4 linked regions of the Homo sapiens genome follow. The protein of the gene in region 3 purifies or fractionates together with the protein of the main gene of each other region. This does not show direct contact. Each region holds a gene or a part of one and is shown on either strand. Other genes may lie near its edges. The genes, in order: TMED5, CTDSP2, SQOR and FAM174A.

Region 1 (5,362 bases), on a different chromosome or scaffold from region 3:
TGAACAGCACCATCAATCAAATGTGTCTAATTGAATCTTGAGAACTAATCAATCCAATGATGGCAGAATAACATTCTTCTCAAGCTCATATGGAACATTCACCAACACAGACCACATTCTGGGCCATAAAACACACCTTGATTTGTGCTGTCAGACCACAGTGGAATTAAGGTAGAAATCAGTAACACAAAAATAGCTGTAAAATTCCCAACTATTTGGAGATTAAACCACACATTTATAAAGAACTCATGGGACAAAGAAGTCTCAAGATAAAATTTTTTTTAACTTCAATGAAATGAAAATACAACCTAACAAAAATTTGTGGGATACAGAGAAATCAGTGCCTAGAGGGAAATTTATAACATTGGATGAACTTATTAGAAAAGAAGAAAGATGTAAAATCAATAATGTAGACATCCACCTTAGGAAGCCAGAGAAAGAACAGTAATACAAACCTAAAACAACCAGAAGAAAAACATTAGAGCAGAAATCAAGAAAATTGATAACAAGAAATCAACGCAGAAAAAAAAAAATCAATGAAGCAAAAAACTGGTTTTTTAAAAAGATCAATAAAACTAACAAACCTCTAGTCAGGCAAACCAAGAAAAAAAAGAGAAAAGACACAGAACACTAATATCAGAAATAAAAGCTGGGTCATCATTAATTATCTATGGACATTAAAAAGATAATAATGGCCAGGCGTGGTGGCCAATGCCTGTAATCTCAGCACTTTGGGAGGCTGAGATGGGAGGATCACTTGAAGCCAGGAGTTTGAGACTAGCCTAGGCAGCAAAGTGAGACCCTGTCTGTACACACACACACACACACACACACACACACACACACAAAATTAGGCAGGCATGGTGGTGCATGCCTCCCTAGCTACTTGGGAGGCTGAGGTGAGAGGATCACTTGAGCCCAGAAGTTCAAGGCTGCTGTGAGGTATGATCGTGCCACTGAACTCCAGCCTGGGTGATGGCAAGACTCCATCTTAAAAAATATAAATAAAAGGATAATAGTGGTGAGAGGTGACAGCATGCTGGCAGCCCTGGCTCGCTCTCAGCGCCTCCTTGGCCTTGGCGCCCACTCTGGCCACGCCTGAGGAGCCCTTCAGCCCGCCGCTGCACTGTGGGAGCCCCTTTCTGGGCTGGCCAAGGCCGCAGCCGGCTCCCTCAGCTTGCCGGGAGGTGTGGAGGGAGAGGCGCGGGTGGGAACTGGGGCTGCGCGTGATGCTTGCGGGCCAGCTCGAGTTCCGGGTGGGCGTGGGCTCCGCGGCCCCGCACTGGGAGCGGCCGGCCGGCCTGCAAGCCCTGGGCAGTGAGAAGCTTAGCACCTGGGCCAGCAGCTGCTGTGCTCGATTTCTCGCAGGACCTTAGCTGCCTCCCCGCGGGGCAGGGCTTGGGACCTGCAGCCCGCCATGCCTGAGCCTCCCCTCAGCCCCCCACTGTGGGCTCCTGCGCGGCCCAAGCCTCCCCGAAGAGCGCCACTCCCTGCTCCACGGCACCCAGTCCCATCAACCGCCCAAGGGCTGAGGAGTGCAGGCGCACGGCATGGGACTGGCAGGCAGCTCCACCTGCGGCCCAGGTGCGGGATCCACTGGGTGAAGCCAGCTGGGGTCCTGAGTCTGGTGGGGACTTGGAGAATCTTTATGTCTAGCTAAGGGATTTTAAATACACCAATCAGCACTCTGTGTCTAGCTCAGGGTTTGTAAATACACCAATCCACACTCTCTGTATCTAGCTAATCTAGTGGAAAACTTTTGTTGTCTAGCTCAGGGATTGTAAACACATCAATCAGCACCCTGTCAAAACAGACCAATCAGCTCTCTGTAAAACAGACCAATCAGCTCTCTGTAAAATGGACCAATCAGCGAAATGTGGGTGGGGCCAGATAAGAGAATTAAAGCAGGCTGCCTCAGCCAGCAGTGGCAACCTGCTGGGGTCCCCTTGTACACTGTGGAAGCTTTGTTCTCTTGCTCTTTGCAATAAATCTTGCTGCTGCTCACTCTTTGGGTTCACACTGCCTTTATGAGCTGTAACACTCACCACGAAGGTCTGCAGCTTCACTCCTGAAGCCAGCGAGACCACAAACCCACCAGGAGGAACGAACAACTCCAGACACGCCACCTTAAGAGCTGTAACTCTCACTGCAAAGGTCTGCAGCTTCACTCCTGAGCCAGCGAGACCACAAACCCACCAGAAGGAAGAAACTCCGAACACATCCGAACATCAGAAGGAACAAACTCCGGACACGCTGCCTTTAAGAACTGTAACACTCACCGCGAGGGTCCGCGGCTTCATTCTTGAAGTCAGTGAGACCAAGAACCCGCCAATTCCGGACACAGTGGAACATTATTAATAAATCTATACCCACAAATTTGAAAACTTAGATGAAACAGGCCAATTCCTTGAAAGATATAAAGTACCAAAACTCATACAAGAAATAGATAACCTGAATAGGCCTGTATCTGTTACAGAAATTATACTGATAATTAATAACCTCCCCCAAAAGAAAGGACCAGGACCAGACAGTTTCAATGGTGAATCCTACCAAACATTTATGGACAAAATGAAACCAATTCTCTAAAATCTCTTACAGACAATAAAGGCTGAGGGAACAATTCTTTACTCATTCTGTGAGGCCAACATTACCCTAATTCTAAAACCAGAAAAGACATTACAAGAAATGGAAACTACATACCAGTATCTCTTAGGAACACAGATGCAAAAATCTTCAACAAAATATTAGCAAAGCTGATTCGACAATGTAAACAAAGAATTACAACCATGACCAGATGGATTTGTTCCAAGTATATAAGCCTGGCTCAACATTCATGAATTATTTTGTGTAATTCATCACATCAACAGGCTAAGGAAGAAAACTCAGATGATCACAGCAATGGGTATGGAAAACATATTTGATAAAATCCAATATCAATCCATGATATTTAATATTAAAAAAATCTTAGCAAACTAGGAATAGAGGGGAACTTCCTCAACTTAAGAACATTTACAAAAATCCTACAGCTAAGATCACACTTAATGGCGAGAAACTAGAAGCTTTCTCACTAAAATCAGAAACAAGACAAAGATGCTACTCCCTCATTACTCCTACTCAGCACTATACTGGAAGCTCGAGCTAATGTAATACAACAAGAAAGGGAAAGAAAAGACATACCTATTGGAAAAGAAGAAATAAAACTGTCCTTGTGATAGTCCATGTAGAAATCCTAAAGAACTGCCAAAAAAAAACCCGTCCCGGAACTAATAAGTGATGATAGCCAAGTCTCAGTATACAATATTAACATACAATAGTCAACTGCTTTCCTATACACCAGCAACAAGCAACTGGAGTTGGGAATAAAAAATACAATACCATTTACGTTAGCACTAAAAGAAAAAAAAAGAAAAAAAGAATTAGGTACAAATCTACCAAAATATGTACAAGATCTATAATCCCAGTAATCCCAGCTACTCAGGAGGCTGAGATGGGAGGATCCTGAGCCCAGGAGTTTGAGACCAGCGGAGTTACACAGCAAGACCTCATCTCAAAAAAGAAAAAACAAATTAGTACATTGTTGGTGGGAATGTAAATTAGTACAGCCCTATGGAAAACAATATGGTGGTTCCTCAAAAAACCACAAATACAACTACCATATCATCTAGTAATCTCACTTCTGGTATACATCCAAAGGAACTGAAATCAGTATGTAAAAGAGATATCTGCACTCCCATATTCATTGAAGCATTATTCACAATAGTCAAGACATAGAAACAACCTAAGTGTCCATTAATGAATGAATAAAGAAAATGTGGTATAGATACACAATGGAATACTGGAGGACATTACACTAAGTGAAATAAGCCAGGGACAGAAAGACAAATACTGCATTATCTCATATGTGGAATTCCTAGAATTCCATACAGTTCCATTCCTAAAAGTGGAGAGTAGAACGATGGTTACCAGAAGCTGGGGGTGGGGGACTTGGGGAGAGAGGGAATAGGGAGCTGTTGATCACAGAGTACAAAGTTTCTGATAGACAGAAGGAATAGGTTTTGAGATCTATTGCACAGGAAGGTGACTATGGTCAATAATAATGTATATTTCAAAATAACTGAGACTGAATTTCAAATAGCTCATCATAAAAAATTATAGGCAAGGCAATGTTAATTAGCCTGATTTAATCATTACATGTTGTATATATGTATCAAAACATCACGCTATACCGCATAAATGTATACAATTATAATTTGCCAATCAAAAATAATACTGATAATAAATTTTTAAAGCTAATGATGTAGAAGATAGAGCTGAAGAAATTATCCATAAAATAGGAGAGTGAGACAAAGAGAGAAATTATGAGAGATTAAGAAGCTTGGATGATCCACTTAAACTGCAGTGAAAATGCAGAAGCAGAAAATTTAAAAAGCTACAAGAGAAAATAGAGATGAACTACAAATATATAACAAACTGACAGGAAGCTTCAACAGCTATAATCGAAGTCAGAAGACAATAAAATACTAGTTTTGATGCATTTAGGAAAAATATCTGTCAGTGAAGAATTCTTTAAGTAATTCAATTCTTTAAGAAAAGTCAAGAGAGCAGAGCCGTAAGAACCAGAGGAAAACAAATTAAGCCTGAAATCAGTCCTATTCAGACTTCCAGTTATATGAACCAATAGACTTCCTTATTAAAAACTGATTTGGTTTGTTTACCTATTGGTAAAAACTTTGTAAGGACTTAAAGACCATGACATTTTAATTAAATAATCATATGTGTTTCACCCCATCAAACCCTATATGTTTTTATGAGTATGGGAAAAGGTGTGGAAGAGTTCACATCTAGGAGAATGACAACAGGCATTCAATAGAGTTACAAAGAGGTTTTTTTTTGTTTTTTTTTTGAGATGGAGTCTCACTCTGTCACCCAGGCTGGAGTGCAGCAGCACGATCTCGGCTCACTGCAATCTCTGCTTTCCGGGTTCAAGTGATTCTCCTGCCTCAGCCTCCCGAGTAGCTGGGACTACAGGCGCGCACCACTGCGCCCAGCTAATTTTTGTTTTTTGTTTTTTCTTTTTTTTTAAGAGATGGTGTTTCACCATGTTGGTCAGGCTGGTCTCCAACTCCTGACCTCGTGATCCACCCACTTTGGCCTCCCAAAATGCTGGGATTACAGGTGTGAGCCACCGCACCCAGCTTTTTTTGCTTTTACATCTTTGTATTGTTTGACTTACTCTAAGGAGGTTGTATATTACTTTTATAATTGGAAGTAAAAAAATTCATAAAGGAGACAGGTGTGGTGGCATGTGCCTGTAGTCCCAGCTACCCAGGAGGCTGGTTGAAGTGGGAGTATCACTTGTGCC
Region 2 (5,362 bases), on a different chromosome or scaffold from region 3:
AGATCAAGACCATCCTGGCTAACACAGTGAAACCGCGTCTCTACTAAAAATACAAAAAATTAGCCGGGCGTGGTGGCGGGCGCCTGTAGTCCCAGCTACTCAGGAGGCTGAGCCAGGAGAATGGCATAGACCCAGGAGGTGGAGCTTGCAGTGAGCTGAGATCGAGATCGCGCCACTGCACTCCAGCCTGGGCGACAGAGCAAGACTCCATCTCAAAAAAAAAAGTGAAATGCCAGACAATGCAAATGTCTGGCTGACACTAGCCATGTACCCTTGGGCAAAGTCCTTCCCTCTCCCTGTGAAAGTTTTCCTTATCTGTAAAGTGAGGTTAATTCCTCTTATTGGAAAGGAAAAGTTGTCAGGAGAACTAAGTGAGATACGAGATATAAAATGCTAGGAATAGTACCTTGCCTATGGCAAGTACTCTATAAATATTGGCTGTAACCATTACTGGGTAAACAAGGATGGATCATTACTCTGTCCATTTACTCTGAAAACTTTAGGACTCCCCTTGAAGAGCCACAGATCTTTAACATACAGTAAAACGGGACCACCAAGAGGAATTTTCCTGCTCGGGGCAAAACAGGCAGTTGGGGCCACTGCTGTGCCTACCTGGCTCTTCTCCAGGGGCACCTGTCAGAGCCACAAGGAGCATTTGGAACACATGCATGCCTGACCCACCTGCCCATGCGCTGATTCAGCAGATCCCAGGTGGGGGGTCTGTATTTTTAGCAAGTGTCACAGGAGACTCTGATGTGTGTCCCTGGCTGAGAGCCAGTATCTACCGGTTGCCAGGGTCTCTGACTAACCCAGGGCTAGAAGGCAATTCAGCCAAAGTCCCCTTGGCCCCTCTCCCCACCGTACCTGACTGGCTCAGTGTTTCTGCAAGCCTTAGAGGACTCATGCCTAGGATCCAGTTTTCTTCTCTAGGGGTAGTTCTATGTGACGTGAGTCAGAAAACCTGGGTCTGCTGTCTCTACCTGCAGGCCCCTGTTCCTGTGAAAGAGGGGTCCTAGCTCTATTCTGCTGCGGGAACAGAAAAGCTGGGATCTACTATCCAGGAAGCCTTCCGCAGGCAATTTGAGCCTTTCCATGAGTCTGCTTGGCTCTCACTGGGATTGGGGCCATATTTGTTCCCTGGGAACAATGCAGATGGGAAAGTGCAAATTCAAGAGGATGGAAAAAGCTGTGGCAAGAAATAAAAGAAGGTATAGAATAAAAAGAGAGTAAGAGCAAAGTCTGATTTGGGGGGATGGGGGTGGGGGAAGGACTAGAGCACCTAGGAGGGAAATGGAAATGTCAGATCCACTCAGAGATCAGGTTCAAGGCTAACTCCTAGAATAGCTAACATAAAACAGGGCATACACACTTTTGCCTAGAGGGAGGCTGTGGCGCTCACTGGAGTACCCTGTGATAACAGATCCTGGTGCAGGCATACTCAGACCTGAAGGGCTGGGCATTTTGCCAGACAAAGAAACTCCATTCTATTTGGTCTCTGGTCCAGAGATGCTTCCAGTTTTAAGTCGTCAACTTATCCACTTTAATTTCTAGTACTTTCTTTGTAAGATTTGCGTGTTAATGTGCTCATCTGCATCCCAGTTCAGAACTACTACTCCATTTCAGAAAAGTGAGGGAAATATGTCAGGGCCACACCCAATCCCACGTCCCAAAGACAAGCGAGTTAATTCCATGCTTCCCAGAGCTGGCCAGACTAAGACAAGATGAAAAGCAGATCAATGCTGCTTTTGTACTTTCTCAATGTTGTACCCCAAAACCACAGGAGCAAACAAATAGCTTAAGAACATCTATTTCTCTTCAAACCCCATTTTCTTTTTCCCCCTCTTATTAAAATTACCTAAAAGAAACCTCAATCTCTCTGAATTCATTAACTCTCAAAGCAGACAGTGAGAGAATGTAGCATACAGTTGTCCTGAATATTCGTTATATCCATATTTGAGAACCTCTAAGGAAGTTTAGACTTTAGAGACTCACAGGGGGCACATGCCTGGCCTTCTCCCACCCCCAGATGCCCAGGCACCAGACAGAATGGCCAAAGTCCCACAGCCCAGGCAGATAACAAATCACATCCCAAGTCACATGACACAAAGAAGGGGTCTGTGCAGCAAGGCTGTTTGTAAGCCTAAGAGGTTGATCCTTCCAGAAGGCCCAAGCCCCCACAATCAGTGTCCCCTCTGACCCCCGGCCACCTGTCTTGAAAAATAAAACCCACAAGACTACGTGCTGTTTACACTGTGTCCTTGGGGGAATGGAGGAGGGCGAACAGAGTAGTCTAACTATGTAAAGAGGGAGGACATTAATATTTATCAAGCACCTACTAAGTACCAAGTATAATAGAAGGGTAGATATCATTATTACTACTTTATAGATAAGTTACTCAGAATACTAAAGTGATTTATCAAGTCTCATTGCAAATAGGAAAAGAAGGTATTTGAACCCAGGCCTGAAGCAATTTTGCTTCAGAAACAATGCTTTGAAGTAACAATGTAAACTTTAACCACCATCCCTGACCCTGGTCCCCACTCTGTCCAATCTAAGAACCAAACTTACCATGATGGGAATAAAAGACAATACCCCAAATTACCCAAAAGCTAGCAGAAAAAAAAAATTGTAGGAGGAATTGGAAGGGAAGCTATGTATTGATATGTACACACATACACACAATCCCATATATATTTACATATTGTCTTTCTTTTCCATGCTTATTTACAAACACTTTAATTCTTCACAGGTTGGGAGCATCAATTCACGTTGGCTAGAAATGTGACTTCTTTAGTATTTACCATTTTAACAAAATCCATGATAAGGGATTTGGAAGGTCCCATGGAAAGGATGAAATGACACCTCTCTGCTACCCAGTTTCTTTAAGACCTCTACGGTTGAGAAGAGAGGACAAAGGAACACCCCCACCTCTGCCATCCTCCGAGGGATTTTTCACAGCAATTCCAGTGCTGCTCAGTGGAAAGCTCTGCAAGTCAACTGCAAACCCCCAGCCCCAGATGTTAGGCATTTACAAACTTTGTTGCTGATTTATCAGCGCTCCTCTGCAATTTTGGGGACAGGAGCAAACACAAGCTTAAGTCACCACGCAGGCTGCAACCCTTACCCAAAGATGGGGGAAAAACTCCAAAGGAGATGCAGGAGGGAGCCTCAGCAGTCACTGTGAGAGCACAAAGAGGCCAAGACCCAGGGTAGGCAAAGGAAGGTGAGAGGCACCAGCAGGGCAGGAGGAGGAGCCAGCTATAAACATGCAGGCTTCCCGCCCCCTGCATAGCAAGCTATGGAAGGAAGCTCCAGCAAGATTCATGTCTAAGCTTTTCAAGTTAAAGGCTTGCCTACATCTACAGTGAACGGTGTCTGAACAACTTTTTGAGGGAATAAGGCAGAATTTCTCCCTTATGCGGATAACAAAAGAGCTAGCCATCCTGAAAACTTGCCACATCGTAATTTTCAGAGATGGTCAGTCTCTCAGAAGAATCCTTGCAATTAGCTATCAGAACCTGTCCAGTTCGGCATGTGAGAAGGTAATCCAGGGCATCATCGAGAGGAAGGGGCATCAGGATTCATGGACAACAAAAAAATCTCTGATTCCTCCAAAAGGCGTGTGGGTCACTGAGCTCCGGAAGAGGCTGCCTCCACCAGGTCTCATTTCACGTTGGGAGGTTACAGCGTGGGTCTTGTTTCCTTGGCTTTCCCCCATCTAATCCCAAAGCCAAGGTCACAACCTCTTAGCAATGGGGTGACAATCTCATATAGAGCTGCAATCAACAGCCATTCTTGCCAAGCTGATATTAACATTTCTTTTTTCTTTTTGATGTTACACACAATCCTGTCCTTGCTGTACCAGAAAGCCATTTCACCCATCTGTCTGGGAAGATGATCCAATTTTGGTGCTTTTATCATCAATGCTTTCAGCAACTTTGTTCTACTTCCCCTACTGTAATTACTTTTGAATCATCAACGCACCCAGACAGCCTTAAACCTCAGAGAACAGAATGCTAAAAAAAGAAAAAAAAAACCCGCAATGGCAAGTAACTTCACTAAATAGCCACCCAAGCTAGGAGCAATTTGTTTCTTTCCAGAAATTTACTTATTAATAATAAGTACCTCACACTCCTTCTTCCCCTTTTTCCAAAGGCAGGCAAGGCATGGAGATGGGATGTTGTGGAGAGGACGGAGTGGGGAGAAGAAGGAACTCCAAAAGGAGCCAATTAAAACATCTGCTTCCCCAGTCCCCCAGCTTTTGTTTTTTGTTTTGTTTTGAAGACGTAGGTTTTGTTTGTAAATGATGTGGGACTCAGAAAGTTGGTTTAGTGGTTGCTGGGTGCCTAAGCAGCCCAGGAAGAAAGTCTGTCTTCTCTGGAATGCAATCAAATTACATGGGGAGGGGCCGGGCGCGGTGGCTCACGCCTGTAATCCCAGCACTTTGGGAGGCCGAAGGGGGCTGATCACCTCAGGAGTCGAGACCAGCCTGGGCAACTGGCGAAACCCCTGTCTCTACTAAAAAATACAAAAAAATTAGCCAAGCGTGATGGCGCGCGCCTGTAATCCCAGCTACTTGGGAGGCTGAGGCAGGAGAATTGCTTGAATTTAGGAGGCGGAGGTTGCAGTGAGCTGAGATTGCGCCACTGCACTCTAGCCTGGGCAACAGAGTAAGACTCCATCTCAATTAAAATAAAAAATTACATGGGGAGGGAGAGACCCAGTGGCTGCTGGCTTAAACCACACACACAAAAAAGGAGAAACATTAACTCCAAGAAAATCCAACACCAGCAACTTAACACTGTCAAGCCAGTTGCTTTGCTTTCTGCTGTTATCTATTCTGTAGCCTGCCATTCACCCTGGTGGATGAAACTTCCAGCTCTGATTTCTAAGATGCCCCGGCGCAGTCCAGCTTTCCCTTACTCCTCGCGTGGCCCCACGATGCCCAAGGCACACTCCCTGCAAGAGAGTCCCTGCAAGAGAGGAAGACCTAGTGGGGAAGCACAGGGCTCCTCCCCCTACTCATCACCACTGCCCCCTCTTGAATCCCCCCACATCTAGGTTTCTTCCCCTCTGGCTAGCTCTTAGGGTCTTTTCCTGGGATAAAAAGGGAGTGGGAAGAGTCAGGAGTGAGCTATAAACACACGCAGGCTCCCTTCCTTTTTCAGCCATCAGCACAGTTGAGCAGCCAGCAGAGGCGGTGAAGTTGCTGCCTGGGTCACAGCCTGGTTAGTGATGCAGCCAGGAGAGCAGAAATCATGGCAACACCGAGGTCAGGGAGGCCGGAGCCTTCTCGGGGGTTGGGATCTGAGTAGGCAAGGCCATCCCTTCTCAGGGCAGGCTTATTTAAAGTCCGGCCAGT
Region 3 (5,362 bases):
CCTCTCTCCCCTCCTCTCTAGCTCTCTCTGCTTCAGAATTCCCAGGGAAGCAACTCTGACTAGATGAGGGGTCAAAACCACCCTTTTTGACGCAGGTTTTCCTGAAAGGAGCTTGGTTACCACTTTACGGCAACTTTTCCATCAACGACAGCTTCTTAAAACTAGAGAAAACTAATGAAGGTGATAAGACATCAACTGCTTGTTTCTGCTTGTTTATCTCTTGGATAGTGAGATTTGCTTTGGGAACTAGAAGGTATGGCGGTCCTGTGCGAAGACCCCCAGGCAGGTGGGCAGAGGCCTTGGTGTCTGGTTCTTTAAGATTCTGGGCAGGGCTCCATCCATTCTAGGGGTTAATATTCCCCTGCCTCCCTCAGAAGTACATAGTGAATATCCATTGTTAGCATTGATGTGAAACTTTGAAAACATTTAAATGCAAGGTGATTTTATAATAATAATGATATTATTATTGAGACTGCCAATGTTACTACTATCTAACTGTAACAGGGGTGAACAGTAACAAATAGTTGCTTTTAACATTGAGTGTGATAAGTAATGAACTCAGGCCACTGAGGAGATGAGAGGACTCTGTTTCCTTGAGACCTCAGGGATAAGTGTCTGGAGTGACTTTGGAGGTGGCCCAGAGAATGGGCTGGGGAGGCTCTGAAGGACCAGGCCATCTTGATGACTGTTTCTTGATGATTGAAGTTGAACCTGCTCTTGCTGAGAACTGAGGCTTAAGTCTCTTTAACTCAGTCTGTGACATCTTCATTGCACTCTACGAGCCTTCTAACATTTATAATAGGTGTCTAGTTGATCTTATTGGCAATAATCAGCTAACATTTACAGGACATTTGCCATGTGCATGTGTCCTGTACATGCATGGCCTCATTTGCTTCTGCCTACAACCCTGTGAAGCAGATACCTTATCCCCATTTCACAGATGGTGAACGTTAGGATTCTCAAACCTGAGTGTGCATCTGAATCAGCTGGAGGGCTTGTTAAAACACAGATTGCTGGGCCTGCTCCCAGTTTCTGATTCAGTAGGTCTAGGGTGGGGCCTGATAATCTGCATTTCTAGCAAGTTCCCAGGTGGTGCTTGTGCTGCTGGTCTGAGCACCACACTTGGAGACCTACTGGCTTAGAAGTATTAGGTAATTTACACAGGGTCACAATGCTAGTAAGTGGAAGAGCCAGGACTCAAACTGGTATGTGGGATCCTAAAGTCCATGTTTTTAGGCACCTGGCTTTAGTGCCTTTATCTAGAGTTTGGTCTGGTACAACCTGATAAAGAGTGATTTAAGTTTGCTATTCTTGATGATATAAATGGCTCTTGGTCCTGCCAGTTGTTCTTTCCAGTGAGGCAACTGGGTCTCCTAAAAGGAAGGCTGGCTGGCGTCTTGTCCTCACTCCGATGGTGGGAAAAGTTGTATTCAAATTGTATTCTCAAGGCCAGGGAGTTGAAGGGTTCCTCTGAGCTGAGCCCATTCTGCAGTTTGACAGGTGACTACAGGTGCCACAGCTCTGGTCTTAGAACCCTCACCCACCTGCCTGCTCTAGGCATGTGGGTATTGGAGGGTAATGATAGTACTGAAATATTTGAAAGGTTGTAGAAATGGCAAAGAACAAGGACTCTAAAGACATTTGCACTTTTGTTTAAAATAATTTTTGTGTACTTTGTTGCAGATTAAAGGCCTACCTGAAGGTTTCGCTCATCCCAAAATAGGGTCGAATTATTCAGTTAAGACTGTAGAGAAGACATGGAAAGCTCTGCAGGACTTCAAAGAGGGCAATGCCATCTTCACCTTCCCAAATACTCCAGTGAAGTGTGCTGGAGCCCCTCAGAAGATCATGTACTTATCAGAAGCCTACTTCAGGAAGGTATGCTTCCTTTCTGGGGACAGAGATGAGCAGGGCGGACAGTGCTAATTCACTGATTGCAAGAATTCCATTTTATCTCTATTGTAATCCCTTTTTTATCTCGGAATTTTTATTACATGTGTACAAAATTAGTTAACTGGAAGTTTATAAAATATAAAAGAGGAGAAAATCACTCATGATCCAATTGCTTTAATAAAGCTGCAGTTTTCAATTTGACATGGCTTTCCAGCTTTTTTTCTGTATACTTAAATATGGTTACAGTCATAGTGTACATGAAAAATTTAGCTGTATTATGTAATATTAAATAGTCTTTGTTACATACTTTTTAAATGTGTGTGTAAAAGTCTACTGGATGCTGGGTGTGGTGGCTCTCGCCTCTAATCCCAGCACTTTGGGAGGCCAAGGTGGGTGGATCACCTGAGGTTAGGAGTTCAAGACCAGCCTGACCAACATGGAGAAATCCCGTCTCTACTAAAAATACAAAAAAAATTAGCTGGGCGTGGTGGTGCATGCCTGTAATTCCAGCTACTGGGGAGGCTGAGACAGGAGAATTGCTCGAACCTGGGAGGCGGAGGTTGTGGTGAGCCAAGATTGTGCCATTGCACTCCAGCCTGGGCAACAAGAGCGAAGCTCCGTCTTAAAAAAAAAAAAAAAGTCTACTGGAGAGATATGTTAGAGACTGTTTAAATATTTCCATATAGTTAGACAATTAGTTGCAGATTGTTCATTTTTATCCATAATGCTATCCACTACTTCCACTCAAGTTTAAGGTCATGAATATTTTCTGTCCCTTGGGTATACATTAAAAAAATATGATACGGAAAATGCCAATTTAAAAAGCAAAAAAATGTTCTCATAGAACTTTAAACCTTCATGAAAAGAGATATTTGGGCAGGAGGAGACTTTCTCAGCATTCTCCAAATGCTCTCTGTGTAAGAGCAGTTGTCTGCAGCTCAAGTACACCTGGCTTAAGCTTGTAAGGGAAGCTGTTCTTGCCCTCCCTGCTCTTGCCTGGGGTTTGACATTTAGTTTACCAAAGTGCGGTTTGGCTTGAGACAGTGGCAGGATTTCTAGCAGCTAGTCGTGTATGGGGACAGATGGGAAGAAGGGTGGGGAAGAACGGGCTGGGGAGTGGTTGAATGTGCTCATGGAGGCTGGGACTGATCAAGACCTTCCCCTGAGCTCTGTAAACTGCAACAACCCTGTGAGGTAGGGAATTAAAGGCAGTTCCAGTAATCATTTCTGACCCCAAGAAAGTTCATTCTGGGTCATAAAGGGCTGGCACAGCCTTTTGAGACACTTACCCACCTGAATTCTTCAAATGGTGAGATCCGGGTGAGCAAATCATGAAAGGAGCCGAGCAAAGGAAAGAAGAAGAAACCAGCTGTTTCTTCCGTCCTGGAAACTTCTTTGTGTAACTCTTTTCTCCCAAGTCTTAGATGGCCTACGAGGAAGGTTCGAGTACCATAAGATCTTAGGCATTTGGGAGAATATTGGCCTCTCTGATCTTAGGCATTTGGGAGAATATTGGCCTCTCTGAACAATATCAAGAAGGTAGGAACTCAGGGTTTTGTTGTTACTGTTTTTTAGTTTGTTTATTTTTTTTTTTTGGAGACAGAATTTTGCTCTGTCACCCAGGCTGGAGTGCAATGGTGCAATCTCAGCTCCCTGCAAACTCCGCTTCCTGGGTTCAAGCCATTCTCCTGCCTCAGCCTCCTGAGTAGCTGGGATTACAGGCGCCTGTCACCATGCCCAGCTAATTTTTATATTTTTGGTAGAGACAGGCTTGTCTCAAACCATGTTGGCCAGGCTGGTCTGGAACTCCTGACGTCAGGTGATCTGCCTGCCTCGGCCTCCCAAAGTGCTAGGATTACAGGTGTGAGGTACTGCGCCTGGCTGGAACTCAGTTTTGCTCACTGCTGTTCCCTCAGCACCTAGGACAGTATCTGGCCAACTCTAGAACTTTGTTAAATATTTATTGAGTAAATGAATACATGAATATATGAATAAACATTCCGTTCTACTCTACTCTGTCTTGACCTGGACCTAACCTTCACCTCTGGCCTTCAGCTGGACAGTGCCCACCTCAGCCCCCAACTCAAGTGTGTACTTAGTTGTATGTCATGGGCAGAACATAAGGAGGAGGCAGTGGATTGGTCTACCCATTGCTCTGCCAGGACATAATGGTGGCAAAAGCTAGCAAGGTCCCTGCTGAGGGTTTTAATTCTTGTCTGGATTAAAAAAAAAAAAGGCAGCTGCAGTCATGCTTTGGTGTGAATGGTTTTCTTATTTTTCTCAGACAGGGAAGCGATCCAAGGCCAATATCATTTTCAACACTTCTCTTGGAGCCATTTTCGGGGTTAAGAAGTATGCAGATGCCCTGCAGGAGATCATCCAGGAGCGGAACCTCACTGTTAACTACAAGAAAAACCTCATTGAAGTCCGAGCCGATAAACAAGAGGCTGTATTTGAGAACCTGGACAAACCAGGAGAGACCCAAGTGATTTCAGTGAGTGGTGAGGCTAAGCTGTCAGCATGAAGCGTTGTCTGCTGAAACGTGCCATAGATACATGGGGGCTCACACCACCCTATCTGCCATCATTGTGTGCTGGGGAAGACTGGGTGAAATGAGCATCTTAGGGAAGTGTTAGGGCAAGAAGGTAGGCCAAAATGGTTGGGGAAGAGAAAGATGTAAGAGGCTGTGTCAGTGGGAGGTGAGAAGGTGTCGTTAGCTGGTGCCAAGTGAATTTTTGTCCTATTCCTTTGACTCAACTTTTCCTGGCATCGAGTCACTTGAGGTAGCCAAAAATATTCCACAACTTTGGTTACTGTGTAGAGGTAAGGGAGGGCTTCCTCGAATGCAAGATCTGGTGATTGTCTCAATTGGTGGCATGTGAGAAACAGTCCTGCTTGTGAGCAGGAAGTAACCCTGTGGGTAGTTGAAGAAAACAGGGATTGGCTGGGCATGGTGGCTCACGCCTGTAATCCCAGCACTTTGGAAGGCCAAGGCAGGTGGATCACTTGAGGTCAGGAGTTCGAGACCAGGCTGGCCAACATGGTGAAGCCCCATCTCTACTAAAAATACAAAAATTAGCTGGGCGTGGTGGCACATCCCTGTAATCCCAGCTACCCGGGAGGCTGAGGCAGGAGAATCGCTGGAACCCAGAAGGCGGAGGCTGCAGTGAGCCGAGATTGTACCACTGCACTCCAGCCTGGGTGACAGAGTGAGACTCCGTCTAAAAAAAAAAAAAAAAAGAAATAATCTCAAACTTAGAGAAGTTACAAAATAAAAATAGTACAAAGAAAATTGTATGTAGCTTTTACCTAGATTCACTTGTAGAATTTTACCATTTGCTTTAGCTTTATCATTTGATTTCTTCCTTCCTTCCTTCCTTCCTTCTTTCCTTTCTTTCTTTCTCTCTTTCTTCTATCTGCCTTTGTCTATCTATCTATCCATCCATATCTAGTTTTTCCAAGGAAATTT
Region 4 (5,362 bases), on a different chromosome or scaffold from region 3:
TGACCTAAGCCTTTAAAAATTAAGGTTTAAAGTACGGTACCTGAATTTAAGGCTTAAAAGTTATTTGTCAACACCATCAGTTGACACAGAGAGAAGAGAGTATGTCAGACAGAAGAAACAGGCGATGGCACATAAACATGTAGGAGTAGGTTTTGTTTCATGAAGTTTAATCCTAGGTGGTAAATTTGTTGCATATCTGAAATGTAACCATTCTGATATTGTTTGCTATGTCAGAAACAGAATAATAATTTATTTTATAAATAAATATAAACTATGCCATATTAAATAATTTTTATTCATTAATTTGTTCTATTTGATAGGATGAGAAGAAGAAACCGAAAGACTAGGAGATATGGAGTTTTGGACACTAACATAGAAAATATGGAATTGACACCTTTAGAACAGGATGATGAGGATGATGACAACACGTTGTTTGATGCCAATCATCCTCGAAGGTAAGTATTCCAGTAGTTTAATTCCATGAATCAGGAAGCAAGTCCTTGCCAAGTAAACTGAAGAAGTAAAGTAGACTTTCATTTAACAGCTTATATTCCAACACAGTTTCTTCAGTTCTGTTTACTGAAGTTCTTTTTGCTATCTACCCCATAGCTCACATTCACGTTGTTTTGCTCAAATAGATACAAACAATAGAATACCATCTCAAAATATTTTTTTTAATTTATTCTTCTGTTTTTATCTTTTATTTTAAGTTCAGGGGTACAAGTGCAGGGTCGTTACATAGGTAAACTTGTGTCATGTGGTTTTGTCGTACAGATTATTTCATCACCCAGTTATTAAGCCTAGGACCCATTAACTTCTTCATTCTTGCAATATGTATTAACTTGGGTGTGTGTGTGCATGTGTGTTTGTGTGCGTGTGTGTTTGTGTGTGTGTGTGTGAGAGAGAAATACTTATTAAATTTAATTTCCTTTTTGTATTCTGAAGATATTTTCTTTTTAGTTTGGGTTCTAGTGTTTGTAAATAGTGCTGCCTTGCAGAATTGGGGGACTAATTGTTTATGGTCTGATCATGTAGCTGTAATATATATACTGAGATCTATTCTCAGTAAGTGTTAAGACCTTTCCTAAGAGGTTTAGATAAATAAAATGACATGAGTATAGAATAAATGCCAATGTAAATAGAATGGGGAAAAAAGCCAACAAAGATTCAACCTAATAAGGAAAGACATCTTGGAATCCAGAGGGATTACTTGGGTGAAGGAGAATTAGAGTCCAGAGTCAGGTACAAATGCAAAGAAAACAGAAATCTTAGGATTACAGAAAAGAAGATGACTCAACAAAAATTGGACTACTAAGTCCTGTATATCTATATTTATATCTATATATGTCTATCCATCTATCTATCTAAGCTGTTTATATATATGCACACACACAAAGGAACTTTTAGTAATGCTGATAATTTGTTCATTTAATACAAATATGTTCATGAATTATACATTTTAATAGTATTACAGCCTGAATAGGCAAACATGAACAAAACAATTGCATCTGTTCTTCAGGCACTCACTTTCAATTAAAGACGCATATAAGATGAAAGAAAAGGGACAGAAACTGATATTCCATGCAAATGGTAACCAAAACAAAGCAGGGGTTGCTAAATTTATATCAGACAAATTAGATTTTAAGTCAAAAACTATCTCTTGAGACAAAAAAAAAAAAGATCATTACATAGTAAAGGAGTCAATTCACCAGGAAGATATGACAATTAGTATGACTCTATCAGAGCACCTAAATTATAAAGCAAATATTGACAGATCTGAAGTAGGAAATTGACAGCCATAAAATAATTTATGGGACTTTAATATCCCACTTACAATAATGAATAGACTATCTAGACAGAAAATCAATAAAGAAACCTCTGACTTAAACAACACTGTAGACCAGTGGACCTGACAGACATATACAGAACTTTGCACCCAACAGCAGAAGAATTCACATTCTTCTCAAGTGCCCATGGGATGCACTCTGAGATAAATCATCTTAGGTCACAAAACAAGTCTTAACAACTTTAAGAAGATTGAAATTATTCCAAGTGTCTTTTCCAACCTCCATGGAATAGAAATAGAAATCAATAACAGCAGGAAAACAGGAAAAATTATAAATATGTGGAAACTAAACGATATAGTTTGAATAAACCTCCAGGCCAAATCTCATGTCAATTGTAACCCTCCATGCTGAAATTGAAGCCTGGTCAGAGATGTTTGGGTCATGGGGACTGATCCCTCATGGCTTGGTGCTGTCCTTGTGATAGTGAGTTCTTGCAAAATGTGGTTGTTTTAAGTGTGTAGCACCTGCTCCTCCTTGCTCCTATATTTGCCGTTTGAAGTACCTGATCCCATTTCACCTTGCACCATGAGTAAAAGCTCCCTGATATATGCTCAGAAGCCAAGCAGATGTCAGCACCATGCTTGTATAGTCTGCAGAACCACGAGCCAATTAAACCTCTTTTCTTTATAAATTACCCAGTCTCAGGTATGTCTTTATAGCAATGAAAGAATGGACTAATACACTGAACAACACACTCTTGAGCAATTATTGGGTCAAATAGGAAATCAAAGGGAATTTTAAGAGCTATTTTGAGACAAAAAAAAAATGGCATAACAAAACTTATGGGATGCAGCAAAAGCATTGCTAGGAGAGAAGTTTATAGCAATAAATGCTTATGCTATGAAAGAAGAAAGACTTCAAATAAACAACCTAGCTTTACCCTTTCAGAAAGTGGCAAAAGAAAAACACTTTAAGCCTAAGCCTAAAATTAGCAGAACGAGGGAAATAATTAAGATTATAATAGAAATACATTAAATAGAGTTGAAAAAGACAATGAGAAAAATCAATAAAATTAAGATTTTGCGTATAGAAAAGATAAAATCAATAAACCATTAGCTAGACTAAGCAAAAAAGAAAAGGCTCAAATAAATAAAATCAGAAATAAAAGAGAAGAAATTACAATGGGTACCTCAGAAATTAAAGAAGACATGAGACTACTATGAACAATTATATGCCAACAAATTTGATAACCTAGAAAAATAGATAAATTCCTAGAAACATACAATCTATGAAACTTGAATCAAAAAGAAATTCGAAGTCCAAACAGACAAGTAACAAATAAGGAAATTGAATCAGTAGTCAAAACCTTCCAACAAAGAAATGTCCAAGACCATATGGCTTCATGGGTAAATTATACCAGACATTTAAAGAAGAATTAATACTCGTCCTTCTCAAATTATTCTGACAAATAGAAGAAGAAGCACTTTAAAACTCATTTTATGAGGCTAGTGTTATCCTGATACCAAAGCCAGACGAAGGAAAGCAAACCGCAGGCCAATACTCCTGATGAACATGATACAAAAGTCCTCAATAAAATGCTAGTTACCCAAATTCAGCAGCATATTAAAATGATGATACACCATGATTAAGTGGGATTTGTCCCTGGAATGCAAATATCTTTCAACACATGCAAATCAATGCAATAGAACACATTAATAGGTTGAAAGAAAAAAAGCCACAAGATCATTTCAGTAGACACAGAAAAAGCATTTGACAGTGCTATCCACATAGACAAATGAGGTTGCATCAAACTAAAATGCTTCTGCACAGCCAAGTAGATAATCATCAGAGTGAAAAGGAACTTTAATAATGGGACAAAATATTTATAAACCATATATGTATATACATATATATATGAGTTAATATCCAAAATTTATAAGGAGTGCATGTAAGTTAATAGCCAAAAATCTCACATAATCTGATTTTAAAATGGGCACATGACCCCTGTACTCTGTTGGTGGGAATGTAAGTTGGCACAGCTGTTATGGAAAGCAGTACAGAAATTCCTCAATAAATTAAAAATATAATTACCTTATGATTTAGCAGTTTTGCTGCTGGATATATATCCAAAGGAAACCATTATTACATAGAGAGATCTGCACTCCCATGTTCACTGCAGCATTATTCATATTAATCAAGCTGTGGAAATAACCTAAATGTGCATTGACAGATGTATTAGTCCGTTTTCATACTGCTTGGAAGAAATATCGGAGACTGGGTAATTTATAAAGAAAAAGAGGTTTAATGGACTCACAATTCTGCATGGCTAGGGAGGCCTCACAATCATGGCAGTAGGCAAAGGAGGAGCAAAGGCACATCTTACATGATGGCAGGCAAGAGAGCATGTGTAGGGGAACCACCCTTTATAAAACCATCAGATTTCATGAGACTTATTCAATATCATAAGAACAGCATGGGAAAAACTTGCCCCTGTGTTTCAATTACCTCCCACCAGGTTCCTTCCATGATACCTGAGGATTAAGGGAGCTACAATTCAAGATGAGATTTAGGTGGGGGCACAGCCAAACCATATCAACAGATAAATGAATTTGAAAAGTATGATATATATATATATATATATATATATATATGTACATATAATATATATAATTACATGTATGATATACTATTGAATATTATTCAGCCTTAAAAAAAAGAAAATCTGGACATTTGCAACAACATGGATGAACATGGAGGAATTTATGTTATTTGAAACAATCCAAACATAGAAAGACAGATATTGCATTATCTCACTTATATATGGAATCTAAATAGTCAAGCTTATAGTAGTGAATAGAGTAGGGGTTAACAGGGGCTGCAGAGAAGGGAAAACAGGAAGATGTTAGTCAAGGGATCCAAAATTTTAGTTATGCAAAATGAGTAAGTTCATTTATGCAAGATGAATAAGCTATGCAAGATGAATAACTTGTACAGCAATGTGAATATAGTTAACAATACAATACAGTAGTGTATACTTTTAAGTTTGCTAGGAGGGTAGATGTTAAGTGTTCTTGATACACACAAAAATATGTTAATCTCAAGAGGTGATGGATATGTTGATTAGCATGATTGCAGTGATTGTTTCACGTAGTATATGCACATCATGCACATCATAACATCATAACATTAAGGTAAACACCTTAAGCATATCCAATTTTTATTTACCAATTATACCTCAGTAAAGATGGAGAAATAAAAAGTTCATGAAACAGTTGTAATCTATGCTAATCATCAATTCTATAGACCATAAAAAGTCATTTTGAAAATTTTAAGACAAGGGAAACTTTGATTACAAAGTTACGTTTTGAAGATTACCCTGACTGCATGGGTTGAAGGAGACCACGATAAAGAGTAAGGTGACAAAGAAGAAAAGTAGTTAGATGGTGCAAATGCATGGGATGACTTGCATTACAGTTACAGCAGGAAAGGCAGAGAGGAGTGAATTATTTAAGCAGCTTTGGAAGGTATTAATTACCTTCCTTAATTACCATCTTAACCAAGATGTAGGTCCTGTT

Evidence for each region.
Region 1: the proteins of SQOR (region 3) and TMED5 purify together in Homo sapiens (co-immunoprecipitation; one large-scale study listed by IntAct). This does not show direct contact.
Region 2: the proteins of SQOR (region 3) and CTDSP2 purify together in Homo sapiens (co-immunoprecipitation; one large-scale study listed by IntAct). This does not show direct contact.
Region 4: the proteins of SQOR (region 3) and FAM174A purify together in Homo sapiens (co-immunoprecipitation; one large-scale study listed by IntAct). This does not show direct contact.

What each region holds. Positions count from the first base shown.
Region 1 is NC_000001.11:93,169,073-93,174,434, forward strand, and holds part of TMED5 (transmembrane emp24 domain-containing protein 5 isoform 1 precursor), read right to left. Parts: intron 1-5,362. UniProt on the Homo sapiens protein: Potential role in vesicular protein trafficking, mainly in the early secretory pathway. Required for the maintenance of the Golgi apparatus; involved in protein exchange between Golgi stacks during assembly.
Region 2 is NC_000012.12:57,839,510-57,844,871, forward strand, and holds part of CTDSP2 (carboxy-terminal domain RNA polymerase II polypeptide A small phosphatase 2), read right to left. Parts: intron 4,253-5,362; exon of another isoform or gene 2,750-4,252; intron 1-2,749. UniProt on the Homo sapiens protein: Preferentially catalyzes the dephosphorylation of 'Ser-5' within the tandem 7 residue repeats in the C-terminal domain (CTD) of the largest RNA polymerase II subunit POLR2A.
Region 3 is NC_000015.10:45,671,924-45,677,285, forward strand, and holds part of SQOR (sulfide:quinone oxidoreductase, mitochondrial), read left to right. Parts: intron 1-1,683; coding exon 1,684-1,878; intron 1,879-4,177; coding exon 4,178-4,387; intron 4,388-5,362. UniProt on the Homo sapiens protein: Catalyzes the oxidation of hydrogen sulfide with the help of a quinone, such as ubiquinone-10, giving rise to thiosulfate and ultimately to sulfane (molecular sulfur) atoms.
Region 4 is NC_000005.10:100,561,734-100,567,095, forward strand, and holds part of FAM174A (membrane protein FAM174A precursor), read left to right. Parts: intron 1-320; coding exon 321-455; intron 456-5,362.